Regions from separate parts of the Homo sapiens genome. Here region 1 is linked to region 2. The links come from fine-mapping of genetic effects on gene expression. A gene starts in region 2. The other region holds a variant in brackets. All regions are shown on one strand. Distances are from middle to middle.

Region 1 (15,116 bases), 22 kb after region 2:
TTATATTTTTAGTAGAGACAGGGTTTCTCCATGTTAGTTAGGCTTGTCTCGAACTCCTGACCTCAGGTGATCCGCCCACCTTGGCCTCCCAAAGTGCTGGGATTACAGGCAGGAACCACGCTGCCTGGCCCAACATTTGCACACATGCACACACACATGTACGTGTGTGTGTGTGTGTGTGTGTGTGTGTATATATATATATATATTTTTTTTGAGACACAGTTTCACGCTGTCCCCCAGGCTGGAGTGTAGTGGCGTGATCTCAGCTCACTGCAACCTCCGCCTCCTGGCTTCAAGCAATTCTCTGGTTCAGGCAATTCTTGGGCCTCAGTTACCTGAGTAGCTGGGATTACAGGCGCGTGCCACCATGGGCCCAGCTAATTTTTTATTTTTTGTAGTGATAGGGTTTCACCATTTTGGCCAGGCTGGTCTCAAACTCCTGGCCTCAAGTGATCCACCCACCTTGGCCTCCCAAGTGCTGGGATTACAGGCAGGAACCATGGCGCCTGGCCCAACATTTGTATAGTTTTAAAAACAGAACGTTAACTACACATTTAACTACAAATGCACTGCTGATGCACATGTGAATAGATGCAAACATTCTGGAGGGAAAAATCTATCAAAATCCTTAAAAATCTCATAGGATTGGACTTAACAAACTCCTGGGCTCAACTGATCCTCGCACGTCAGCCTTCAGAGTAGCTGGCGCTATATAACCTCATATCACCACGCCCAGTTAATTAAAAAAAATTTTTTTTTTCTAGAGACCAGGTCTTGCTACATTGCCCAGTCTGGTCAGGAAAACCATTTTAAATAGAGACTCCTAAGGAAATAATTGAGGACACTGGCAATTTAATGGATTTTATTTATTTATTTATTTTTTGAGACAAGTTCTCACTGTCACCCAGGCTAGAGTGCAGTGGTGCGATCTCGTCTCAGCTCACTGCAACCTCCCACTTCTGGGCTCATGCAATCCTCCCACTTCAGCCCCCCAAGTAGCTGGGAGTACAGGAGCAAGCCACCATGCCTGGCTAAGTTTTATATTTTTGGTAGAGATGGGGTTTCACCATGTTGCCCAGGCTGGTCTCAAACTCCTGAGCTCAAGTGATCCACCAGCCTTGGCCTCCCAAACTGCTAGGATTATAGACATGAGCCACCACCCCAGGCTGCATCATTTTTTAAACGATGAAAAACTAGAAAAAATCTAAATATCCCAGAAATGGGAGATCAGTTGGGTGAATTTTCATAGTACGAAGACGGATTCTAATATAACCATTAAACTTTAGTTGTACAATTTAAGAGACGTTCCTAAAGGAATTCTTGTGATCATCTTGCCCTGGGGAAAGGTCTGAGAGCCACACTGAACATGGCTAGTTTAAGTACTGGTCGTGCTTTCATTGGGAATATACTGTTTTGAGGGAATGAATCGGAGAGAACTGTGTTGGCAGCACGGCACAGTCTCAGGAAGCTTCACTCAAACTGTGAACCCTTATGCTAACTCCCGTGAATATGGCTGGTGGCGCCCACCACCCACGCCACTCCCATTTTATAAGGTGGAACCTGAACTGCAGGGCCAGAAAGCAAAATACCCACATTTCCCTAAATCTCTTGTGCTAGCATTCTGGGCATGCATGAGGTTTTACCAGTTGAGGTTTGGAAGGTGGAGGTAAACTTGAGGCCACCTTCTTCACTTTGGCCGTCTTCCGCTGCCAGAGCTGTGGATGAGCTTGACTCTCCTCCCTCTCACACCTGACATGGAATCTATCAGCAGATCACGTGTGTGCTACCCTTGAAATCAGTATCTAGAATCCAATCACTTCCCAGTGCCCCTGCTGTTAGCGGCCTGGCCAAGCCACTGCCATCCACTGTCCAGGGACTCCATCAGCCCTGCTTCCCGCCTCATCTCCACACCAGCTGGCTCACCAGGTCACTTTAAGAATAAAGCCGGGCTGGGTGTGGTGGCTCACGCCTGTAATTCGAACACTTTGGGAGGCCGAGGCGGGTGGATCACCTGAGGTTAGGCATTTGAGACCAGCCTGGCCAACCTGGTGAAACCCTGTCTCTACTAAAAATACAAAAATTAGCTGGGCTTGGTAGCGGGTGCCTGTAATCCCAGCTACTCAGGAGGCTGAGGCACGAGAATCACTTGAACCTGGGAGGTGGGGGTTGCAGTGAGCCAAGATCACGCCACTGCACTCCAGCCTGGGCAACATAGCGAGACTCCGTCTAAAAAAAAAAAAAAAAAAAAAAAAAAGAATAAAGCCAAGGTCCCTACCATGGCCTAAAAGCCCTCCAGGGCCAGGTCCCACCCCTCTCACTCCCTCAGCTCCAGCCAGTCTCTGTCTTACTCTTCACTCAGCCCAGAGCACTCTCCCCACCTGCATCTGATCCCGCTGGTTCACTTCCTCAAACGATACCCTCTCAAGGAGACCTACCCTACTTGCTGCAACATGCCCGCCACCACCCAGAATCCCCTGCTCCCTGCAAGTTCCCAAACTCTTGTCACCTTTTAACGTCCTTCCTTAAGCTTATCCTGTCTCCCTCACTAGAGTGCAGGCTCCTCCAGCAGGACACAGCCCCTAACCACTGCTTTCCTAACTCCTGCAGGGTGCCTAGCACACAGCAGGCACTTTCTTCAGGTGTGCCAGGGTCCAGCTACAGCTGTATGGTTCCCCAGAGGCAGCTGGGGCTGTGGGATTCCCTCACCCCTGGCTGGCAGCTGTGGCAGTGTGTTGTGTTCCGGAACTCAGTCGAGCTTGAGTCTCCACCCTCCTGATTGTGGCAGAGGGTGTAGCTCCCTCACCATCTGTTCTAGGGGGTGCTGATTCCTGGATGCTTAACCTATGGCTCACTCCTCCAGCCTTCCAACGAGTCTATAAACTTCTCTTCTTGTATTAACTCTTTCTGAATACCTAGAATGGTTTCTACTTGTCCAGTGAAACCTCATGCACGCCCTGGAAAACACACAAGATAAAGTCTCCAGGCCAACAGTGATCAAGACTGCATTTTTCTTTTTCTTTCATGTAAGCTTTCTATTTTTTTTTTTTTTTTTCTGAGATGGAGTTTCACTCTTGTTGCCCAGGCTGGAGTGCAATGGCGTGATCTTGGCTCACCGCAACCTCCGCCTCCCAGGTTCAAGCAATTCTCCTGCCTCAGCCTCCCAAGTAGCTGGGATTACAGGCATGCACCACCACGCCCAGCTAATTTTGTATTTTTACTAGAGACGGGGTTTCTCCATGTTGAGGCTGGTCTCGAACTCCTGACCTCAGGTGATCCGCCCACCTTGGCCTCCCAAAGTGCTGGGATTACAGGTGTGAGCCACTGCGCCTGGCCCATGTAAGCTTTCTTAAGATGTAAAGACTGCATTTTTTTTCTGACTATATCTTAAATGTAGATGAGCCAAGTAACAAAGTCCAACTTCTGACTCAGTTTTTGGGAAGACAGATCAGTGGTTACCCCAATGGAAGGGAACAGAAGAAATGCTTTAGAAGAGCTGAGGCAGAAAGTGGCCATGCAGAGGGCTCCTAGAACTGGTGTCCCATCACCATCTCTGTTTTTTCAGATGACACCCCTAAGACCTGAGCCCCTTCTGGGCCCCACACTCCACCTGTAGAACTCTGATGGGGCCTTGTGCGGCCGAACCACAATCCAAGAGAGGTGTTCACATCATGTGTCGCTAGCCACAGCCATCTCAAGGGGAAATGCCCCAAATGTAGAAGTATCTGACACCAGGACTGGGGGTTGGAGCACTGGATGAACAGCGTGTGTGCCACTCTTTCACTGTGCACCGTCCTAAGAAAGAAGCCTGTTTCCCTTTGAAGAGCCTAGTGCTGACTGCCCAATTCAATCGGACCACGCAGGGCAGTCTGAGGATTAAAAGATGCTACCTTTAATTCCTTCGGCTAATTCAGAAGTATGTGAAACACAACATACTCATTAACATGGAAGAACTGGATGTGTGTGCATGTGGGTGTGTATTATTTATTTTTCAGAGACAAGGTTTCACCATGTTGCCCAGGCTGGTCTTGAACTCCTGGGCTCAAGTGATCCTCCCACCTCAGCTCCAGAGTAGCTGGGAACGAAGAATTGTATGTATTTCTGAGTGAGATAGAGTACACGATAAAACCACATAATTTATATCATTATAAATAACATACAAAATTTTGGAGGCTGAAATAATATACATGAGCAGTCATAAAATACAATGAAATCATGTGCTTTGCAGCCACATGGATGGAGCTTGAGGTAATTATCCTAACCTCGGAAACAGAAAATCAAATAGCACATGTTCTCACTTATAAGTGGGAGCTAAATAATGGGTACCTATGGACATAAAGATGGAAATAGCAAACACTGGGCACTCCAAAAGGGGGTGAGTGGGAGGGGGGGCAAGGGTTGAAATGCTACCTGAGTACAATGTTCACTATTTGGGTGATAGGTATGACAGAAGCCCAATCCCCACCAGTACGCAATATACACAAACACGCACATGTGGCTGGGCGCAGTGGCTCACGCCTGTAATCCCAGCACTTGGGAGGCTGAGGCAGGTAGATCACTTGAGGTGAGGAGTTTGAGACCAGCCTGGCCAACATGGTGAAACTCCCGTCTCTACTAAAAATACAAAAATTAGCCAGGTGTGGTGGCATGTGCCTGTAATCCCAGCTATCTGGGGGGCTGAGGCGGGAGGATCACTTGAACCTGGGAGACAGAGTTGCAGTAAGCCAAGATCACACCACTGGGCGACAGAGTGAGACTCCATCTCAAAAAACAAAACAGAACAAAACAAAACAAAACAAAACTAACATGCTCATGTACCTGCTGAATCTAAAATAAAATAATATACACTAAAATGTTAAAATTGATTTTAGTAGAATAAAAGGTGACTGAATATTTTAAAAAGTTATGCCTAGATGAATACTTTATGATTTTACATTGCAGCATTTTTTGAACATGGCAGCAGCTACTATGAATTGTCTATCCAACTGCCACTCCAGCTTCCTCCCTACTAACAAAACCCCAGCTCAAGGGCAAGTGTGCTCAGTGCCAGGGGATACACTAGTCGACCCATCCCCCTTTGCCAGGGCCTGGTCCAAGAGTGGGCACGTGGCCCCACTCTATAAAGAGACAGGGGGGAGGTTGCTGGAGCTGCTGACGGTTATTCCCGGATAAGGGCAGAATGAGAAGGCTCCTGTACTACTGTCCACTCTGGCTGTGGACACCATCATTTGCAGAATGATGCTTGGCGCAGGAGCAGCCATTCTGCAATACTGAGGATGGCAAAGCAGACGGTTCCAAGGAAATCCTGATGACATTTTGGCTTCCACCCAACTCTAGAACCATCTATTTACAGACTTTTTGCTATGTGAGATAAACATTCCCATTGCTTAAGCCACCGTCAGGCTAATTTTCTGTTACTTGTGCTGATCACATCCTGTTATAGGCAGTTATCTGTCTGGCACCGAATAAATGCCTCATGTTCACTCTAATTTAAAAGCAACCCTATTAAGCTACTACTGTCTCACTCTTACATAAAATAAAATAAATAAAATCAAGCTTAAAGAGGATAAGTGATTTTTTCCAACCAAAGTTACTGGTGGAGTCAGATTCAAACCCAACCGTGACTCGACAGCCTGGACTCTGCCACTTAAACATGTAGTTAGAAAAGTGTGCAAGCCTATTGTTCCTTCTTTCTGTATTTAACAGAAAGCATATACACAGATGCAGGGAGCAACAAATTTGCATCCACTTGCACTCATGTATAAATTTGGCTTTGGGCTCTTCTCCTCTGTCATCTGTCCATATTCCTTGGTAGAAATGCATGCCTCAGGGGCCTGACCAAGAAGGTGGACTCTCCTCTCTTTTCCCACACTTATTAATAAGACCTAATTTGTGCATCAGGGATCTGAGACAGGTTGTGAGGACTTTGATACGGAGTCATAAGGTTCAAGCCAAGACATCTGAATGGGCGAAATGAACGTGAAAGCAGTACATGTTCTTCCTCAAACTTTCTTGGAAGGGTCAGAAAACAGAAGATTGAAAAATACCCAATATCTAACATCGGGCCATTGAGTTCGTCCAAAAAAAGCAGAAGAGTATTTCTGAACCAAAGAAACAGAATAGAAAGAGAGGATGAGAATGGAGACCTGCTGGCCGTGCATCAGCTATTTAAAGGAAGAAAGGGCTGGAGCCCAGAGTTAACCAAAGCTTAGCCTTAGACCAAACAGGGCTTCCCAGCACAGGTTTCCAAGGAACCCTTTCTGCTCCAGTCCTCTACAGTGAGAAGAGCCCAGAATAACACTGTCCAATGGAGCTGACATGAGCTTCAGCACCAGAAAGGGTGATATGGTCACCAAATATTCAGTCAGCCTCACAGCTGCTGGCTGGGCAGGTTGAGGGCTTTGTAGGAGAAGCCCAGCCTTGACAAATGAGTAACAGGCTTGAGGAACTTTGAAAAGAAGGAAGGTGAGCCTGAAGGAAGATGTACCCAAAATCTAAGGGGCCACTAGGAATCAGGGATGGGGGTGGAGGGGAAGCGGTTCTTCCTGAGCCCCTATGGTTCATACTGTCCCAGAGGCCAGGTGCCACGACGCCAGCAAAGGGAAGTTGTGCCATCAGCGTCTAACAGCCACACACGCTGCCGCATGAGACCTTTTTCTAACCTGCAAACGTCTCCCCAGCTGAACCAGGGAAAACCCCAGCCCTACTGTCAAGACAAGAGGAGAAGCTGTTCCTCCAGGGACAACACAGTACAATGACCTGGTAAAGGGAACAGGATCACAGACCCAAAAAAGTAACACTGAGTAGGTGGCTCTGGCAGTGCTAGGACAGGAGACGGGCAGGCCTCTGAAACCCAAAGTTTTTGAAGTGGGCATCATCGGCCAAGTGTCAAAGAGGCCATTATTCAATACATCCCTAACTTCTCTTATGAAGGATTTAGTTTTTTTGTTAGCAATATATGACTTCGGCTCATACATGAGTACTAACTGCAAAGGAAAGAGTGCAGGGAACATGTCCTGGGCCCAACATGTCCCCCAAAGGCTTTTGTAGGGTGCTGGGAGGGGTCTCTGACTTCTTCCTTTCTATTACCTGCAGCTATTACAGTAACTCACACAGGAGGCACCTGGCTAACAGGAGCCAGGAGAAAAAGGCATAGAACAATCTGACACCATAAATTTAGGGCATCAGGCCCAGGGTGAGGACGGGATATAAAGCAGGAAGGGGCAAGAGTGGGGACGGGAGCAGCTCTAGTCGCTGCTTCTGGGAGATTTAGAATCTCTATTTTGTTTGAAAATAGACTCAGGTAGAGAAAAAGGACATGAACGTTTATTGAGTGCCTGCTGGTTCTGGCCTTGTGCAGTTTTCATCTATAA[T/G]AGCCCATGAATCCTCACGCCAACCCTGGAGGTAGGTATCATCCCCATTTGTGTCGGATGAGGTATAGGAGGCTCAGAAAGGTTAGGTAGTTTGTCCAAGGACACAGAACCAGGAACTGGCAAGCTGGGACCGAGTGCTTAAGTCTCAGACTCAATCCTTGCTCTCTCTCCTATACTGCCTCCAGGAGGACGGGGGGAGCACCAGCAGAAGCTGCAGTCCACACGCTTCCTGCCCCTGCAACCCAGCAGGCACCAAGAGAAGCCGGCCCCTTCACACAGACCCTCCCCATCTACCCTTGGAGGATGCATCAGTGGAAGAGATTAAGACATAAATACAAAAATAAATAGCAGGGCCAAGTCCCCAGCAGCAAGGATGTGCCATCTCCACGCTGCAGGAAGGTCACTGTGCCATTCACAGCTGCTGTGGGAGGAAGCCCTGGGGGACCTGGAACAATGGTTGCCAAAGGCTGGAGTGAGTGGGCTCAGTGGGCCCCTTCTGGGTCTCACAGATTCAAGAACAAAATGTCTGGAGCAGGCAGCAGCCGTGGGCACAGGCGCCGTCCTCCTCCACCTGCTCATTTTACCGGTGTTTGTGATCCAAGAGGGATTCAAAATCAGGGGAACATACAAGTTTGTGCTTCACGTGTCCCAGGACTGTCATCTCCCCTGTCCTACTGTCTCCAAGGCCCACGGACACCAGCTCCTGCCAATTAACAGAGACAGTGATGAGAACCACCACCACGTGCCCGGCGTGTAGAGCTGTGAATGGGGACATGATACTCCCAGAAACCCCCTCCCTTATTTAGCAGTGGCTCTTCAATCCTCCTTCACTCCTGAAAGGGTCCCTCCTTGCCCCTAAGGAGGCTCTTACCTGCAGGAAGGAGCAGGCAGTTCCCATGGTCACGTCCAGAGTCACCTTGCCCAAGAGGAGTTGCACCCTTCCAGACTTGCGGATGAGTAGCTTGCCAACCTGACCCTCTGTCAGGTCAGCCAGGGTACAAGCATTCTCTGCCAATTTGGCTTCCTGCGGAGAAAACCAGAGGATGGACACTGGGCTAGGAGCTCTTTCCTCCATCTTTCATGAACCCCCTTCTACTCCCCAAGAGAAAGGCACAGCAAAGGTCAAAATGAGCTCCCCAAAGAGTGCCTTCTCCTAGGGCTGTCTGCTATGGTTAAAATACAAAACCCACAGCAAACAAATACATACACGGACAAAATATCAGTTACTGCTGAAGCTGAGTTCTGGTACATGGCGGTTTACGTTCTCTTATTTTTTTGAGACAAGGTCTGACTCTGTCGCCAAGGTTGGGGTATAGTGGCATGATCTAGGCTTACTGCAACCTCTGCCTCCTGGACTCAAGCCATTCCCCCGCCTCAGCCTCCCAAGTAGCGGGGACTACAGGCACACGCCACCATGCCTGGCTAATTTTTGTATTAGCCATGGTGTCACCACGTTGCCCAGGCTAGTCTCGAACTCCTGGGCTCAAGTGATCCTCCTGTCTCAGCCTCCCAAAGCGCTGGGATTAGAGGCATGAGCCACCGCATCTGGCCATATGTTCTCTCATTTGTGTTTGAAATATTTCCTTATAAGAAGTGAACACACACCCCCACAACACATACACAATTGGGGTTGGAGGTACAAAGCCCCATGGCTCTTGCAGGCGTCAAGAATAACCACCCATTATTGTCCCATTTCAGCCAGGGTGACACGGCTTTGCTTCCCACTACAGGTCACCACTTCCCGTCCCAGTCCCCGACTTGATTCCCGCAGGCCTCTGTCTGAGCGTACTCGGTCTTTCTCCTGCTTGATGAGCACCACCTGTCCGTCCTCGCCCTGCACCTCTGTCTTGATAGGCTTGATGTCCTGGGTGGGTGGCTGGCCAGGGAGGGTGTCTGGCAGCTGCAGAAACAGCAGTTCCTCTTCCTTGGTGAGGCTCAGCTCCCTCAGCAGCTCTGCCACAGATACATCCTTCGGGAGGCCTGGAGTCTTCCTGGCTGCTTTGGGAGGAGCCTTCATCTTGGCCTCTTCCTCCTCATCTCGTGGCTCCTCTTTCACTGCCCGGGTGATAGACATGGAATGCTATCAAGTGACCACCCTCCATACCAGCTCACTGTTACCAGCCCTTTGCCCCTGTCTGCTCCACTGTCACTCAGCCAGGGAGTGGGAAGGAGGCACCAGTTATACAGAGGGGCAAGAGACAACACGTTCAAGTCTCACATGACTTATCTAAAAAGGGACATCTGAGGCTAGGCCCACTGCTCCCTGTCAACACAGGAACCCTCTGCGAGGGAGAATGGAGCATCTTTGTTCAGCTCATGTATCTTACAGCCGGAATGGGAGGACCTGCTCACGAGCAGCAGTCAGGGGCACATGCAAGGGATGCCTGATGCACGGGATTCCTGGGGAGCAGCCATGGAATTGGAGATGAGAAGTTAACCGACAGAGTACCTTTCACAGCAGGTATGTCCACCTCCATGTCCTCTTCCTTGGGGCCAGCCAGCCAAGGTTTAACATCTGGTTCGTCATTTTCTTCCTTAAAAAGCCATCCTGAGTGAGCCAGCGGCAGCTGCACAGGCATATTTCGAGTGTCGTTCCTCAGGCCGGGGTCATCGAGGAACTGCCAAAGAGAGTCTGGGTCATCCAGCCTGCTAGCACATGCACCTGGATCAAAGTCTGCTTTAGTCCCTTTCTAACCAAAGATTCCGCTGCTCCCCAGGATTCCAGGACATCAGTAAGCTCTTCTACCCCTCACCTGGCTCCCCAGAAGCCCTGTTCTACAGCCACAAGGAAACCCCTTCCCCCAGCCTCCTGGTACCCACATCGTCCTTCTCCAGCATACGCAAGATCTGTTTAGTTTCTTCGTCTGTCTCTCTCTTCTCTTTTTTGATGTTGATGATATGAGAAGGTCCCATGTCTGACACATCCACTGTCTTATCCCAGTTCCCTGTGGGAAATCACCCAGGTCACTAGGGATCGATAAGGAAGATGCCCAACAGCAAGGAAAACGGAAATGGGAGTGGGGAAATTCCACTGTTCTCGCCCTTCTCTGGGGCAGTCTGAACTGAAATTCACTGATTCCTTCCTTATACCTTTTTTCTTCATCATTTCAGCTGGGCCCTGCTCAAAGATGGAGTGAGACTGGATCACTTCTGGACGGCCTCGCCCTCGTCCATGCCCCTCTCGTTGTCGGTCTCTGTCCCTTTCACGCTTCTCCTTCTTGACAGTTACTTCTTCCTTGGGCCTGGAAAAAAGAATGGATTAAGGGAAACCACTCACTCACTGTGTCTCCAAAATCTGGCCTTACTCTCCCATACCACTTCACTCCAAAACAGTGGAGAGTTTGAGCCAATATTTACACCATGAGAAGCAGAATCCAATCCTAATTCTAGCACTTTTCTCACTTCCTTGATGAGGCAGGATTTTTTCAGTTTGCTTTACTTTACCTTCTTGTCCAAAAATATAGATTTTTGTTTGCATTGGGACTGAAAGCAGGAAGGCAGAAATGCAAAGGAACTTCAGGGAAAGTGTGATACATCTTTGTTTAAACTATTGGCTCTCAACTCGGGCAACAAAGAGAATCACTCCATTCTACTGCCAGCAAGTTAAATCACAATTTCTAAAGATGGAACCCTAGACACCAGTAATTATTTATTTATTTATTTATTTTTTAAAGCTTGCAGAATCACCTAGGAGCCAGGGTTGAAAATCACTAGTGAAAAGAACTAAAGATATAAATTTAAATTTTGGAGCTACAAACCTAGTTATTTCCCCCAAAGCCCCAAATTCAGAGCAAGTAAATAAGGGGCAAGTATTCAGAAGGCCTAGCTACTTACTCTTCCTTGATCTTCCGACTGATGATATTTGGGGTGAAGGTTTTCTGAAAGCAAAATACAGGAGTCACTGATGTGTTAGGTTCTGACCCCAAAGTACAGAGGAAAATAAAAATTCCCAAAGGGCATCTTCTACAGACCAAGGCCACCACGGCTCTCGTTGGCACATTCCACAGTGCTGTCAGTTTTATAGATACACATGTGCCTGAAAAGGAGGAATGTCATAGTGTGGTAGCAGTGGAGTTACACATAGAAGGGGGCACCAAAACCCACTTTTAACCAGCAGCCTTAGGTTCTGCCTCTGAAAGAAGATCCTCTGGGACTTCTAAAAGCAAAGGAATTTCTCTGGTCTCACCTCTTCTCTTCAAACTGCTATAGAGACCAGTCAGTATCATGGGGGAACAGCTCTAGCAGCAAGGCCTAAGTAGGGAAGGCCATAGATCTGCCAACACTTTCAATCAGGTGACTATGGACTGTCACCACAATTTTCCAAGGCAAAGTTAGGTTTTTAAAAACTGCTTTATGGCTGGGCGTTGTGGCTCATGCCTGTAATCCCAGCACTTTGGGAGGCCAAGGTGGGTGGATCACGAGGTCAGGAGTTCAAGATCAGCCTGGCCAAGATGGTGAAACCCGTCTCTACTAAAAACTACAAAAAGTAGCTGGGCGCGGTGGCGGGCCCCTGTAATCCCAGCTACTCGGGAGGCTGAGGCAGGAGAATCGCTTGAACCCGGGAGGCGGAGGTTGCAGTGAGCTGAGATGGTGCCTCTGCACTCCAGCCTGGGCGACAGAAAGAGATTCCCTTAAAAACAAAACAAAAAACCAAAAAACCGCTTTATTCGGCCAGGAGCGGTGGCTCACACCTGTAATCCCAGCACCTTGGGAGGTCGAGGCAGGCGGGCGGATCACGAGGTCAGGGGTTCAAGAACAGCCTGGCCAACATGGCAAAACCCTGTGTCTACTAAAAATACAAAAATCAGCTGGGCATGGTGGCGGGCGCCTGTAATCCCAGCTACTCAGGAGGATGAGGCAGGAGAATCGCTCAAACCTGGGAGGCAGAGGTTGCAGTGAGCTGAGATCGTGCCATTGCACTCCAGCCTGGGGGACAACGGCGAGACTTCCTCTCAAAAAAAACCAAAACCAAAACCAAAACCTGCTTTGTTCTTCTGTCATCCTGACCCCACCCCTTTCTGGGCTACTCTTGACATCCACAGTCATATACACATGGGAGAGGCCACAGAGCCTCGAATGCCATACCTAGGATTCATCATACTCTAGATAAAAAGTTTGCACACAGAGATGGTGAATTCTGAACCCTCTAAGACTGCGAAGTTTATGCCTGTCTGGCTTTCATGGGTTTCTTAAAGATGTCCAAACACACAATAAAAGTAAATAAACACTGTTCAAATTGCTTTTGAACGACTTTAACTTATTAGGATTCTCTGCCCTTCAACCACCTCTGGGAGTCATTTCAACATCTTGTACTCAGTACCTAGATTTGAAGGTAGGACAGACTCCCTAGAATTTAAAGAGGGGTAGGCTTGAGAGGCCCAACGACAGTCCTGACACACAGTAGGTCCTACACAAACATTAGTTGAATCCTGGGGCTTGGAATTCAAGGTAGTTGAGTTTCTTTAGAAACGCGCCGTTGGGTACCTTCTTGACTCCCCCGAGGGTGAGGTCCCTGGAACGGATGGAGGGAAGGCGGCCGGGGGTGAGGGGAGGCGCCGGCCGCCGCCCGATGAGCCCCCGGGCCCCAGTCAGGAGAGGTCGGGGCCCTCCCGGCGTGCTGGGCTCGCCGGCGGCGTTTCCTTCCGACATGTTGCCTGGGAGAGAAGGGGCGACGAGATCACCAGAGGGGACTGACACGCGGACCCTGGCGGAACCCCACCCCCTTGCTTTCCGGTCCCCCAGTCGGTGCGTCCCTCCAGTGGCCTCTCAGCTCCTCCCCTCCCACGTGGCGAGACTCCCGGGACCACCCAGGTGAGAGCCTTTGGCTCGCGACACGCCCTCTCCAGGAACCCCGCCCAGGAACCAGACAGGGACGCACCCGGGCCGCGGCTCCACACCGCGCGTCACAACCTCACCTGCAACGCGACCAGCCGCCAGCCTTCGGTCTCCGCGCCGGGCGGAAGTCTGCGTGGCAGGGCCTGGGCGCCGCCATCTTGGCGCGGGGCGGAAGTGACGTTAGGGGGGCGGGACTGGGCCACAGTATTTATCAGGCGGCGCTTCGCTCCCCTCCGCCTTCTCTTCCCGGTTCTTCCCGGAGTCGGGAAAAGCTGGGTTGAGAGGGCGAAAAAGGATGAGGTGACTGGTCTGGGCTACGCTATGCTGCGGCGCTCGGGGGTCTTGGCCTCCGGGCGGTGGCGTGGAGGCGCCAAGATCAGGGTCCCGGGTTTTGTCGGCCACCACGCCGCAATGTGAGGATTCGCCTCGGCGGAGCCCCTGGGAGCTTCGGGGTAGCTGCTCGGGATGGGGCGAGGGGCGCGGCGCGGCGCAGAGAGTGAGACCTGGACTTAAGAGTCGGGGAGTCCTGGGCCACACCGAGCCCTGTCTGCGGGTTCTCCATGGTGACCTTGGAGTGGTCATTACCTCCGGGCAGCGACCTCGCCCACTTTCGGGGACCCCTTCCCTGTGCTCCTGGTGGAGTCCTGGGGTGAGGCTGTGGGGGCAGCTTGGAACAGCCGCAGTGGACCAACCGGTGCCCAGTCATACCCGCTTCTGATCACGAAGGCGGTGGCCCTCGTGTGCGCTCTTGGTCAAAGCCTGGAGGGAATTGGAATACCAAGTTTGCTCTACTGCTGGAGGAATTTAAAGAACTTTTGTTGACTCCAGCGTTTGTGATTTAACATAAAAGGTGTCATTTAATGTTATCCCCCATCCCCCAGACCGTATAAAAACCATGTAACAATATTATGGGGAGTTTGAGGAAAGGAAATCATTTCTACCAGAATGCCACGTAGAGTACTACTATTAAAAATTTTGTAATGTATCTAGTAGTCTTCACAGAGTTGTCGTATCACAATTTCGTGTCCTTTTTCTTTTCTTTTCTTTCTTTTTTTTTTTTTTGAGACGAGGTTTCTCTCTGTTGCCCAGACGGGAGTGCAGTGGTGCGATCAACACACCGCAACCTCTGCCTCCCAGGCTCAAGCCATGCTTCCACCTCAGCCTCCTGAGTAGCTGGGACTACAAGTGCATGCCACCACGCCCGGCTAATTTTTTCTTTTTCTTTTTTTTTTTTTTTTTTTTTTTGTATTTTTCGTAGAGACGGGGTTTCACTATGTTGCCCAGGCTGGTCTTGAACTCCTGAGGTCAAGTGATCCCACCCGCTTCGGCCTCCCAATGTGCTGGGATTACAGGCATCAGCCACCACGCCTGGCCTGTATCCTCCTTTTTCAAATAACATTTCTCTGTTGCGACATCAAAGACTGCGTAGTTCTCCAGTGGCTGTATCATGATTTAAGTATTTCCCTGATTGTTTCTTTTTTCCCTGTTTTAAATAATGCTGCAGTGAATGTCTGGTACATTTGACTTGCTTTTTTTCGATTTTGTTTTTGTTTTTGTTTTCTTTTGGATTATATTCCCGGGATAGATTTCCCGTCCTGGGATAACTGGCCAAAAGAAGATTTTTTTTTAAGTAAATATTTGCGATAGGCACGGTGGCTTAGGCTTGTAATCCCAGTGCTTTGGGAGGCGGAGGTGGGAGGATCGCTTGAAAGGCTCGGCAGTTGGAGATTTCAGTAAGCTATGATCCAGCCCTTGCATTCCAGCCTGGGTGACACAGCAAGACCCTATCTCTAAAAACATTTTTTAAATTAAACTTTTTATTTTGAGAACATTGTAGGTTCATGTAGAGTGGTAAGAAATAATGTAGAGAGATCCCAAGTACTGTTTACTCGTTTTCCCCCAGTAGTAACC
Region 2 (13,576 bases):
CGACCTCAGATGATCCACCTGCCTCGGCCTCCCAAAGTGCTGGGATTACAGGCGTGAGCCACCGTGCCCAGCCCTGCAAGCACTTTGAAATCCATTACTTCCTCTGACGGCACACAGGTAAGCTGTATGCCACTCCTATGCATCCGGAAGTGGTCTTACCCTTTGTGCTGGCCCCCTCTGTGTGCTTGGTTCCTCTGGCTTTCCAAATACATGGCCTCTGCCTGCAGGTGCTCCCCTGCCCAGAGCTGGGTCCAAAGGTTTAGAAGCTTGTGGCCAACAGCCTGGCATCCGTACAGCCTGGCACTGGGATGGGTGGATAGGAGACTGGCCCCTGAACGATGGTCGGAAAGGATCCATGGACGGGCTGTAGAGAACACGTGTCGATCCTGTTCTGGTTAATTACCTGCCATCATTTTCAAAAGATTAAGATTCCCAATTGTTTTCCTTTTCCTTCAAGACACACTCACAAAGCATTAAAATAGTATTTTGAGTCAGTCCAGTAACACGCCTAGCCTTCTACAACATATTCACTTCAAAGGCTTCTATTTGATCTGTAATATTCTAAACATCCTTCATTAACAATCCCTCAGAGCAGTGGTCCCCAACCTTTTTGGCACCAGAGACTGGTTTCCTGGAAGATAATTTTTCCATGGACCCAGGGGTGGGGGGATGGTTTCAGAGTGACTCAAATACATTACATTTATTGTGTACTTTATTTCTATTATTACATTATAATAGATAATGAAATATAATAATTATACAATTCACCATAATGTAGAATCAGTGGGAGCCCTGATCTTGTTTTCCTGCAACTAGCTGGTCCCATCTGTGGGTGATGGGAGACAGTGACAGATCATCAGGCATTAGATTCTCATAAGGAGGATGCAACCTAGATCCCTCCAATGCGAAGTTCACAAGAGGGTTTGCACAATGAGAATCTAATGCCACCAGTGATCCGACAGGAGGCAGAGCTCAGGTGATACTACAAGCCATGGGGAGCAGCTGTCAATACAGATGAAGCTTTGCTCATTTGCCAATCTCTCACCTCCTGCTGTGCAGCCCAGTTCCTAACAGGCCCCCCAACCAGCCTGTGGCCTGGGGGTTGGGAACCCCTGCCTTAGAGGCCCGTGTCCTCCTTGAACTTACTTATATTTTCTACCCAAATAGCCTCTCACAAAACTCAGTCCTGTGAGTTAACTAGCTGTTGTATAAGGAAGCAGTTTTTTAGGAGGGTCTCCTTCTGTCGCCCAGGCTGGAGTGCAGTGGCATGATCATGGCTCACTGCAGCCTTGACCTCCTGGGCTCAAGTGACCCTCACATCTCAGTCTCCTGAGTAGCTGGGACTACAGGCATGCACCACAACACCCAGCTAATTTGTACATTTTTTGTACAGACGGGGTCTTGCCACGTTGCCAAGGCTGGTCTCAAACACCTGGGCTCAAGAGATCTGCTGCCTCAGCATCCCAAAATGCTGGGATAATAGGTGTGAGCCACTGCACCTGGCTAAGGCAGTTTTTATGTATGAGGATGACTTTGGTTTATAAACAATTTCTTTTCCTCCCCCCCTTTTTTTTTTAGACGGAGTTTCACTCTTATTGCCAAGGCTGGAGTGCAATGGTGCAATCTTGGCTCACCGCAACCTCTGCCTCCTGGGTTCAAGTGATTCTCCTGCCTCAGCGTCCCGAGTAGCTGGGATTACAGGCATGCAGCACCATGCTCGGCTAATTTTGTATTTTTAATAGAGACGGGGTTTCTCTATGTTGGTCAGGCTGGTCTCGAACTCCCGACCTCAGGCGATCAGCCCACCTGGGCCTCCCAAAGTGCTGGGATTACAGGTGTGAGCCACTGTGCCTGGCCTATAAACAATTTCATAGTTAACACAGCCATATCATAAAATTATTGTCAACAAATATTTATGGGTTTTTGCTTTGTTTTTGGCCTCTCTTTCCTACATAAGAGTCCTAACTTTTTTCCAGTCTATGATTGCACCAAATTCTCTTCCTTGATCTGTTTAGCTGCTTCTCCGAATCTCTATCCAATTCTTTTTTACAAAATTCTTCCTTCAGGCTGAGCACACACACACAGTGGTTCATGCCTGTAATCCCAGCACTCTGGGAGGCCCAGGTGGGAGGACCATTGAGGCCAGGAGTTTGAGGCCAGTCTTAGGAACACAACGAGACCCTGTCTCTACAAATAATTAAAAAATAGAAAAAAAAATTTTAAAAACTCTCTTCTTTCAAACTCCATCAGAAGTCTCCAGAGTACACAGTCTTTCTGCTTTGAGCCTACAATACTTGCTCAGTCTCACAGGTTGCATTTAACACCCTTCTCTCTCCCAGGTTACCCGGGGTGAGGCTCTCCCTGGCTTCCCTACCAAATCTAAAGCCCATCAGGTCTCTTCAAAATCACTTCATAACCTGTAGGTCGGGCATGGTGGCCCATGCCTGTAATCACAGCACTTTGGGAGGCCGAGGCGGGTGGATCACTTGAGATCAGGAGCTCAAGAGCAGCGTGGCAAACATGATGAAACCCTGTCTTTACTAAAAATACAAAAATTAGCCAGGCATGGTGGTGCATGCCTGTAATCCCCCCTCCTCAGGAGTCTGAGGCACAAGAATTGCTTGAACCCAGGAGGCGGAGGTTGCAGTGAGTCAAGATCGTGGCACTCCAGCCTGGGTGACAGCACAAGATTCTGTCTCAAAAAAAAAAATATATATATATATATCACTTTATAACCTACAGATTTCAAGACTCCCTCTTTAAGGGGCTCCTCTCATTGTCCTGACTTGCCCCTGATTCCTGAAAAATATTTCTTAACGGAAAAGAATTTTTTTTTTTTAAGAGACAGGGTCTTGTTCTGTCATCCAGGCTACAGTGAAGTGGTGGCATCTTAGCTCACTGCAGTCTCAACCTCCTGTGCTCAAGCAGTCCTCTTGTCTCAGCCTCCCAAGTAGCTAGGACTTCAGGCACCTGCCACCATACCCAGCTAATTTTTAAAAAAAATTTGTAGAGACGGGATCTTGCCATGTTGCCCAGGCTGGTCTCAAACTGCTGACCTCAAGTGATCCTCTCACCTCAGACTCCCCAAATGCTGGGAGAAGCCTCTTCTTAACTTTCAAAAAGCTGTCTTGGCCGGGGGTGGTGGCTCGCGCCTGTAATCCCAGCACTCTGGAAGGCCAAGGTGGGCAGATCACAAGGTCAGGGGTTCGAGACCAGCCTGACCAAAATGGTGAACCCTCATCTCTACTAAAAATACAAAAATTAGCTGGGCATGGTGGCCTGCGCCTGTAATCCCAGCTACTCGGGAGGCAGAGGCAGGAGAATCGCTTGAACCTGGGAGGCGGAGGTTGCAGTGAGCAGAGATCACGCCACTGCACTCCAGCCTGCGCTACGGAGCGAGACTCCGTCTCAAAACAAACAAACAAACAAACAAAAAAGCTGTCTTAAGTATTAGCTACAGAGAAATCATACATTTAAAGAAAATATTAACACACAATTCATAAACCCACAGCGTAAGTGCAGACAGTTCAGGAACTTGCAAAATTTATTGAACTAAACTATCCTCTTTCACACTCTAAACGCAGGATATGACTCCCTTTCTTGAAGGCTATATTTAACTGCTAACACCCCTTTTCGGTGAGCCAGGACTCTGCTCACACCTCCCCAACACCACCCAAAGAATCCCAAGCAATCAGTATGCTAACAGCTACATACTCAGAAGCGCTGGACGGCCTCCCTTAAGGGACATCTGGAATCTTCCTCTTTGTCCACGCTTCCCTCAACCTCCAGCACCACTTCTATAGATTCAGGTAGCTCCCCCAGAGGGCCCTCTCCCAGTGTGGGTTTCCCCCTGGGATCAGGTAGCAGATACTTGGCTGTCCGAAAGGTTCAATGGGGAGCGAACCCAGGACGGGCTGGGCCTGCCTCCCTCGCATCCCTGGGTGCGTGCTCCGCGCTGAGGCCTCGCGACTCGGGCCTAACCAGAAGCAAGGCCCCCGAAGGCGAGTCCCATCCCCTTTCCACCCCGAGAAAAGCACCTTTCCCCAAAGCCACAGCCCTGCCAGGGGTTCTATCTCCTCTCTCAGGCCAAATAAGACGTCCACTTGGGCCTCCGGAGGGCCTCCCCTGCCGCCCCAACCTGGACACCTTCTTGGGGCCGCGGCGCCGGGCCTCGAATAACGACTTCCCGCCCCCGCCCGACCCGCAACCCTCAGCAGCTCCCCGAAGTGGGAGGGGAGAGGCCCGGGAGGGCGGCTCACCCCACGTGCTTGAGCAAAAACCCAACCTGCCCGCCCCCGAGCGACCCTGGCCTGCCTGGCATGCCGCAACCGGGGCCAGTACTCACCTGTGCGCGAGTCCTCGCCCCAGTCGCCCAGCTCCGCGCGGCCTCAGGGGAAGACCGAGCTCAACCCACGCCCCGGGGCCCACATGCTCCAGGGCCAATTTCCGCTCTTCGAGGCCTCCGGGGATGAGCCCATTGGCCACAAGACCTGTCGTTCACAAGAGCAAGCTATCTAATTGGCCCATCTGCAAGAGAGGCTCGTCCTTTCCAGCAGGTTCCCTGTGCAGGGGCGGTTCGTGCGGAAGGAGCGCTGGGAGTTATGTGAACCTCAGCGTTAAAATGTGTTAGGGTTTGGAGATCCTGACTCCCTTTCTGGGGGCAACTCCTATAAACAGATTTAGCCTAAGACTCGCGTGTTGAAATTGACTTGCCCCATTCCTGCCAGTTAAGAGGATTAGCGATACAGGTGGTGAAAAAGAAACGGTAAGCTCGAGTGCGCATTCAAACACCTAATTCATATGATTTCTGCACATCACTTTCGTTATACATAAAACAGAGATAAAAACTAAAAACATCCATTCATAGGGTTGAATGGAAATGTACACACATAATGACATAACGTATGTAAAATACTTAGCACAAGGAGAAGACGACCCTCGATAAATGTTGCCTATTTTTATTGATGCCTAAATCTGTGAGCCAAGAAGAGCTTTCTAGGAAGCAGATTAAATTATCAGTGGTTACTTCAGCAACTACAGAATGATTTTACCCAAAGAAAGATTTCTGACCCTCTCCCAACCATTTTGTCAAATAACTGCATCCCTCTCCCACACCCAGGTTTTACAGTGTGGTTGAGGTAAAGCTTCTGAAGGCTTTGGCGGATGCTATAGAGACATCCAAGGGCTCTGCATGGAATAGGACTAGAGAAGGGTTAACCTTATTTTTTCCAGGCCTCAGATATCCCATGACTTATTTTAATCCACACATACAAGGGCCCTCCCTATCCTTCCCGAATGAGGATAGTCTGAAAATTATTGGAGCAGGATGATTTTCAACTCAGGAATCCAGTTGGCACGATGCCCCTTCACTGTTCCTAGATAGTATTTGTTTACCATGATCTAACATTTTCACTTCCTTTACCACACAACCTTCTTAACTTGCAGCTGTTGCAATGTTATGTTGTAAGCAATTCTCCTGCCTGTGCAAATACTTAATGGTAGCAAGTGCAGTCAAAAACAGTTATACAAACTGTTTTGTAACTTTCGTGAAGATCCAACTCCTTGTTCTTTTAGGAACTCCGACCAAACTTTGCATGACACACTTATTCTATACACATGAAACAATATTTTGGGGGCAGGATTCAGCAAATCTTCTAGTTGAAGTAAGGGAATAATAATCCTCAGATAATTTCCTGAGTATGTCTTCTATTTGGGAACCTAAACCAAGAGCACCATTACAAAGGGTATGCACATTGGGTTTCCTAGATTTCTATATCCTGTCCATCCATGCAAGTGTAGGTGGCCTTCGTACAGTATTTCTAGCTAATCCAGACATCATTAACACTACTTATTTAACCAAAGGAAAATCCATATAGTCCTGCTGTTGATTGGACATAAAAATGGTTGAAGCTTTCTGAAACGTGGACATCTATTTAGGACCTTTCAAAAGCTAATCAACCTCTTTTGGAGATTATATTCCCTAACAGAGTACTTTAATTGTTAATTAGCCATCCCTAGGATATTGATTAAAAAGGACACACATAATCTCATCACAAAAAGATGAGTATGTGAGGTGATGGATATGTTAATTTGGTTTAATCATTCCACAATGTAAATAAATATCAGAATATCATACTGTACCACATAACCATATGTAATTGCTATTTGTTAATTAAAAATGAAAGGGGCAAAAAGAGCACGTATATCACACTAAGAGATAGTATTTTGAGATAAATCACAGATTTTTTTTTTAACTCAAAAAAGTCGTAACACCAAATTCTGTCCACCTGGCCCTGCCAGTCTCTAAAATTCAGAGTGAAAATGGCCCCATAACTATACATAACCTGAATTTTCCTAGGCAGTCATGACTCCAAATACCCTGGGCACTTGGTCACCATAAATATTTCTATTCCAACCATGTATTCTGGTTTGTTGTTGTTGTTGTTGCTGCTGTTCAGAAAATAAGATCCCCAGAGCCACAGCAAGATTAAGGGCAGAAAATTACATTACTGGTGGGGCCTAAAACCTATAGGAAGGATTTCATTTAAAGTAGACCTATGTAGTATGTCTGGGTTCCTGGCAGAGATAACTAGAAATCCTTTCAGGAGAAATACACCAGGCTCCCAAAACTCCCACGTAAAAGGTATGAATAAATATGAGCTCACGAAACACATCAGGCCGAATAACAGGAGGACACACAATCTAATAAAAAAATGGGCAAAAGGTATGGTGGCTCACATCTGTAATCCCAGCACTTTAGGAGGCCAATGTGGGCAGATGGCCTGAGGTCAGGAGTTCGAGACCAGCCTGGCCAACATGGTGAAATGCTGTCTCTACTAAAAACATAAAAATTAGCCAGGCATGTTGGTGTGGTGCCTGTAATCCCAGCTACTCGTGAGGCTGAGGCAGGAGAATCACTTGAACCCGGGAGGCGGAGGTTACAGTGAGCTGAGATCACGCCACTGCACTCCAGCCTGGGCAACAAGTGCAAAACTCTCTCTCAAAAAAAAAGGGGGGGGGGCCAAAAGATGTGAGTGGACCTGTGTCAGTCCATTAGTCCCTTTAGTGTTACTATAAAGGAATACCTGAGGCTGGGTAATTTATAAAGAAAAGAGGTTTATCGAGCTCATGGTTATGCTGGCTGGAAGGTTCAAGACTGGACACCTGGTGAGGACCTCAGGGTGCTTCCACTCATGGCAGAAGGCAAAGAGACCCGGCCTGTGCAGAGATTACATGGAGAGAGAGGAAGCAAGAGAGGGGAGGGAAGCGCTAGGTTCTTTTTAACAACCAGCTCTTGTTGGAACTAATAAGCCCTTTAGTAGAGACAGGGTTTCACCATATTGCCCAGGCTGGTCTTGAACTCAGTGGCTTATGGGTGTGAGCCACCACCCCTGACTGGAGCCGTAAAATTTAATGGAATTTGTCCTTCAGTATCTGCAGAGTATTGGTTTTTAGGACCTCCCTCCATGGATACCAAAATTCACAGATGCTCAAGTCTCTTATATAAAATGGTGTATTTTATATTTGCATATAACCTATGCACATTTCCCTGTATACTTTAAATTGTCTCTAGATGAATTATAATACCAAATACAGTGTAAATGCTACATAAATAGTTGTTACACTGTATTGTTTAGGGAATAATTACAAGAAAAAAGTCTGCACCTGTTCAGTACTGATGCAGCCATCCTTTTTGTTTTTTCCAAATATTTTTGATTTGTGGTTGGTTTAATCCATGGATGCAGAACCCGTGGATAGGGAGGGCCTATTGTATTTAGATGAGATCTTAGACTTGCAATTGATACTGAAACGGTGTAAGACTTTGGGGGCTGTTAGGATGGGGCGAATGTGTTGCATGTGAGAAGAACATGAATTTGCGGGGGACAGAGGGAGGAATGTTAGGGAGTGAATTGTGTCCTCCTTGCAAAACCTATGTTGAAGCCCTAATCCCCTGTATTTGGAGATAAAGTATGTAGGGAGATAATTAACATAAATGAGGTAAGGAGGAGCTCTAATCTGATAGGATTTGTGTCCTTATCAGAAGAGAAAGACATGAGATCTTTCTCTATCTCTATCCCTCTCTCTTCATGGAAGCACAGAGACAAGGCCATGTGAGGACACAGCAAGATGGCGGCCATCTATAAACTAGGGAGATGGTACTCACCAGAAATCAAATTTGCCAGCACCTTGATCATAGAATCATAGTCTCCAGAGCTGTGAGAAAACAAATGTGTGTTGCTGAGGCCACCCAGTCTGTGGCAATTTGTTATGGCAGGCCTGTCTGACTAATAGAATAACAGAAGTCAGCAAGGATGTGGTGGAACAGGAACCCTCAGACATTGCCAGTGGGAATGTAAAATGATGCAGCCTCTTTGGGAAACATTTGGCAGTTTCTCAAAAAGTTAAGAAAAAAATTACTGTAGGAACCAAAATTTCACTTCTTGGTAGCTACCTAAGAAAAATGAAAACATGTCCACACAAAACTTGCATGCAAATGTTCATAGCAGCATTATTGATAATTGCCAAAAACTTCACCTAAATGTCCATCAACTGGTAAATGAATAAACAGAAATTTGTATGCTTAACAATGGGGATGCGTTAAAAAAAAAAAGGAGGCCGGGCACGGTGGCTCATGCCTGTAATCCCGGCCGGGTGCGGTGGCTCATGCCTGTAATCCCTGCACTTTGGGAGGCCAAGGCGGGTGGATCGCCTGAGGTCAGGAGTTCGAAAGCAGCCTGGCCAACATGATGAAAACCCATCTCTACTAAAAATACAAAAAATTAGCTGGGTGTGGTGGCAGGCGCCTGTAATCCCAGCTACTCAGGAGGCTGAGCTAGGAGAATCGCTTGAACCCAGGGGGCAGAGGTTGCAGTGAGCCAAGATCGCGCCACTGCACTCCAGCCTGGGCAACAAGAGCAAAACTCTGTCTCAAAAAAAAAAAAAAAAAAAAAAGGAATAAAGATGTGGTATATATTCACACAATGGATGGATTCATCAATAAGAAGGAACAAACTGCTATGGCATGGATGAACCCCAAAAAATATGTTAAATGAAAGAAACCAGACATAAGAGACCACATATTGTATGATTCCATTTATGTGAAATGTCTAGAAAACATAAATCTATAGAGACAGAATGTAAACTAATGGTTGCCTGGGGCTGGGGTGGGAATTAGGATGAACTGTAAATGTGCATGAGGGCTTTTATTAGGGTGACAAAAATGTTCAAAAACTGACTTATGGCAATGTTTGCACCACTCATTAAATTTACCAAAAATTATTCAATAGGATAAATTATATGATATGATATGTAAAATATATCTTTTTTTTCTTTTTCTTTTTTTTGAGACGGAGTCTAGTTCTGTTGCCCAAGCTGGAGTACAATGGTACGATCTTGGCTCACTGCAACCTCTGCCTCCCGGGTTCAAGCAATTCTCCTGCCTCAGCCTCCTGAGTACCTGGGATTACAGGCTCCCGCCACGACGCCCAACTAATTTTTGTATTTTTAGTAGAGACGGGGTTTCACTGTGTTGGCCAGGCTGGTCTCGAACTCCTAACCTCATGATCCACCCGCCTCGGCCTCCAAAAGTGCTGGGATTAAAGCATGAGCCACCACGCCCAGCCTAAAATATATCTTAATAGAGGCATTTTTAAAAAAACGCACATTAAAAAATAAGCAGAGCACTTTGGGAGGCTGCAGTGGGTAGATCTCTTGAGGTCAGGATTTCGACACTAGCCTGGCCAACATGGTGAAACCCCATCTCTACTAAAAATACAAAAATTAGCCAGGCATGGTGGCACACGCCTGTAATCCCAGCTACTTGGGAGGCTGAGGCAGGAGAATCACTTGAACCTGGGAGGCGGAGGTTGTAGTGACTGAGATCATGCCACTGCACTCCAGGCTGGGTGACAAAATGAGACTCTGTCTCAAAAAAACCAAACCAACAAACAAAAAGAAACACCACAAAATAACATAGAGAAACTACAGTGAACAGAACCAGATCTAGAAATATTTCAAAAAATAGTGTCACTGAACACGGAATATAAATAAATAGCACATTTCATAAATATGAAACAGTATGTTTCAAGAAATAAAGGTGGCAATTGCAACAATGAGTAAAGAGCAAAGGCAGGCCAAGTGCAGTGGTTCATGCCTGTAACCCCAGCACTTTGGGAGGCTGAGGCGGGCAGATCTCTTTAGCTCAGGAGTTCAAGACCAGCCTGGGCAACATGGCAAAACCCTGTCTCTACAAACAATAGTAATAAAAAAAAAATTGGCCAGGAATGGTGGTGCATGCCTGTAGTTCCAGTTACTTGGGAGGCTAACGTAGGAAGATCACTTGAGCCTGGGAGGTCGAGGCTGCAGTGAGCTCTGATTGCACCACTGCACTCTAGCCTGGGCAACAGAATGAGATCCTGTCTCAAAAAAAAAACAAAAAAAAAAAAAGCAAAGGTAACCAAAATTGATGAGGCAAGTTTGGAAAAGAACCAAAACAGAACTTCTAAAAATGAATAAAGTAATAGAAATTAAACACTTAAAGGAAAATTACACAAGAGAATATACACAGCTAAAGAGAGACATCATGAATTAGAAGATCAGCTGAAATATTTACCTAGAATGTAGCACAGAGACAAAGAGATGGAAACATGAGAGGCTAAGAGACACAGAGAACAGAGTTAAAAGGCCCAATAAAGTATGAGATGGAGATAACACAGAAAAAAGAGGAAAGGCAATATTCAACAATTTAATGGGTATGAACTTTTTAGATTTGATGAAAGATACAAATCTTTAGCTTCAAGAAGACCAGTGACTCTGAAACAGAGAAGTAAAAAGAAATCTACACTCAGCACATCATCATTGTAATGCAGAATACCAAAGGCAAAGAGAAGATCTAAAAAAGCAGTCATAAAGAAAAAACACATTATCTATAAATGAGTGAAAAGTGGATTCAGTAACAGTAATATTAATAGGAAAATCCTGGAAGACAGGGTATAATATATCCACAGGCCTGAGAGGTTAAGGGAAAAAAACCTGTCAACCTAGAAATCGTATAGCCAGTGAAATTTTCTTTCCAAAACAAGGGTAAAATAAAGCATTTTCAGAGAAACATAAACTGACAGATTTACCTTCAACAAACCTCTCTAAAGAAATTTCTAAACATGAAGATAAAGAAAAAATGGGCTAGGTTAGGTGGCTCACCCTGTAATCCCAGCACTTCGGGAGGCCTAGGAAGGCAGATCAGTTGATGCCAGGAGTTCGAGACCAGCCTGGGCAACATGGTGAACCCCCGTCTCTACTAAAAATACAAAAATTAGCCAGGCATGGTGGAGCATGCTTGTAACCCCAGCTATTTGGGAGGCTGAGGCATGAGAATCGCTTGAACTCGGAAGGTGGAGTTTGCAGTGAGTCAAGATCATGCCTTTGTGTTCCAGCCTGGGCAATAGAACAAGACTCTGTTAAAAAAAAAAAAAAAAGAAAGAAAGAAAAGAAAAAGAAAAAGGAAAAAAAAAGAAAAAGAAAAAATGCCCCCAGAAGGAAAGTCTGGGAAGAAAAAAGGAATCATGAGTGTAGTAAGTGACTGAATAAAGGGGTAATAATTGTGTCCAATAGATGGATGACTTAGCCTAGATCCTCAGAAGGCAGGGCCTAAGACAAAGATTTAGTGCAAGTATTTTACTGCAGAGTGTGATCCCAGGGACTAGGAGTAAGGGACAGGGGAATGACGCAGGGAGGGAGGGAGAGCTTACTCAAAGATGCATTAGGAAGTTGGCCACTGCTACAATGATCTAGTTGCTCTATCCGTCAGGACCATTTGAGAAGCCATATAAAGTCCATGTCAAGACCACCTATCCTACAGGAGCAAGGAGGATGCTTGTACTATTGACTCTCTCCTTTCCTTTGGTCAAAGACACGCCTCAAGGAGTGTTAAACCCCGGTACTTTGTAGTTGCACCATGGTGTTCCATCCTTTTCCATGCTTTGTCATCAACACGAAAGTCTCAGGGAAGAAGGAAGAAGATGCACAGAGCAAGCCTGAGGTTAAGTACTATCAGGTTGTATCTGTGTAGACCTAGTGGGTACCCACAGAGAACTGGTCAACACAGTGCTGGCTAAATAAAGAGACAGGTAAGACTGAGAAGATGTGCAAAGGGTCATAGAGATGTCCAATACGATGAAGTTTTTAAACAGCCAAAAAAAAAAAAAAAAATAGAGCCAAGAAGTTAAGACAAATAGGCATATAAGTCAGGAGAGAGATAATTATAATAAAAGCATTATAAGGTTCTGGAGGAGGGTAATAAGAATTAACTTTACACTCACTAAGTATGCACATTAAAATTTTTTAAAGAAATACAGTGAGCCTACAAAACATGGTGAAACCCTGTCTCTGCAAAAAATAAAGAAAAAAAATTAGCTGGGCATGGTGGCACACGCCTGTAGCCCTAGCTACTAGGGAGGCTGAAGTGGGAAGATCCCTTGAGCCCGGGAGTTCGAGGCTGCAGTGAGCTGTGATCATGCTACTGCACTCCAGCCTGGGCAACAGATCAAGACCCTGTCTCAATTTTTTTTTTAAGAAATAAAATCTATATATTTCCAGTCAGTGGAGGAAAAACAAATGAGAAAAAATTAATCTAAACAAAAAGGCAAAGAAGAATAAAAATTTATCACAGAAAAATCCGGACAAAAAGGAAACATAAAATAAGTGACAGAAATAAATTCTACTGTGTTAGTAATTACAATATAAATATGTAGAACTTTCCAGGCAAAAGGCAGAAATTGGTTGGGCGTGGTAGCTCACCCTGTAATTCCAGCACTTTGGGAGACTGAGGCGGGTGGATCACTTGACCTCAGGAGTTTGAGACCAGCCTGGCCAACATGGTGAAAACTTGTCTCTACTAAGAAAAAGAAAAAAAAAAAAACTTAGCTGGGCATGGTGGCATGTGCCCGTAGTCCCAGCTACTCAGGAGGCTGAGGCAGGAGAATCGCTTGAACCCAGGAGATGGAGGTCACAGTGAGCTGAGATCATGCGACTGCACTTCAGCATGAGCAACAGAGCAAGACTCTGTCTCAAAAAATAAATAAATAAATAAAAATAAAAAAAACAGAGATTATCAGATTGGATTTTAAAAACAGAATCCAGCTATATAGTGTTTAGTAGATAGAGATAGACATAAGTAGACATAAAATATAATGACAGAGAAAGGTTGAAATTCAGATGGTGAAAACATAGGCCCAGTGCTTTGGAAGGTGGGAGATAACTTAAGGCCAGGTGTTCAAGACCAGCCTGGGCAACCTGGTGAGACTCCATTTCTACCAAAAAAAAAATTTGCTGGGTGTGGTGGTGCATGCCTGTAGTCCTAGCTACTTGGAAGGCTGAGGCGAGAGGATTGCTTGAGCAGAAGAATTTGAGGTTACAGTGAGCTAGGATCCTGCCATTGCACTCCAGCCTGGGTGACAGAGTGGGATCCCATCTCTATAAAAAATAAGAATAAATAAATAAAATCAAGCAAGCACTAATCCTTCAAAAAAGCAAGCAAGCTGGAGTTGCCATGTCAATATCAGACAATGAAAACCTTACA

Which allele goes with the higher level. Positions count from the first base shown, and alleles are read on the strand shown. Sizes are in standard deviations (SD) of each study's normalised expression.
As copies of G replace T in region 1, the expression in aorta of the gene that starts at base 4,582 in region 2 goes up (small effect, 0.37 SD a copy in GTEx).

What was found.
Region 1: its variant is fine-mapped to the expression of PIWIL2-DT in aorta (GTEx, PIP 0.98). The same link has a PIP of 0.9 or more in fibroblasts.

What each region holds. Positions count from the first base shown.
Region 1 is chr8:22,243,353-22,258,468 of GRCh38, reverse strand. POLR3D (RNA polymerase III subunit D) reads right to left here and starts at 13,336. Exons shown (of 9, transcript NM_001722.3): 1 at 13,286-13,336; 2 at 12,855-13,024; 3 at 11,205-11,248; 4 at 10,461-10,612; 5 at 10,191-10,315; 6 at 9,820-9,988; 7 at 9,160-9,425; 8 at 8,242-8,394; 9 at 3,868-8,073. The coding sequence starts at 13,019. The coding sequence ends at 7,951. PIWIL2-DT (PIWIL2 divergent transcript) reads left to right here. Exons shown (of 2, transcript NR_134293.1): 2 at 3,563-3,893. MIR320A (microRNA 320a) reads left to right here and starts at 13,432; the gene lies at 13,432-13,503. RefSeq lists enhancers at 12,063-12,232, 13,357-13,426, 12,894-13,561 and a silencer at 12,867-13,046. The variant T/G (reference allele first, on the strand shown) is at 7,371.
Region 2 is chr8:22,266,168-22,279,743 of GRCh38, reverse strand. PIWIL2-DT (PIWIL2 divergent transcript) reads left to right here and starts at 4,582. Exons shown (of 2, transcript NR_134293.1): 1 at 4,582-4,765. PIWIL2 (piwi like RNA-mediated gene silencing 2) reads right to left here and starts at 4,428. Exons shown (of 23, transcript NM_018068.5): 1 at 4,346-4,428; 2 at 160-403. The coding sequence starts at 357. RefSeq lists enhancers at 3,503-4,148, 9,115-9,284.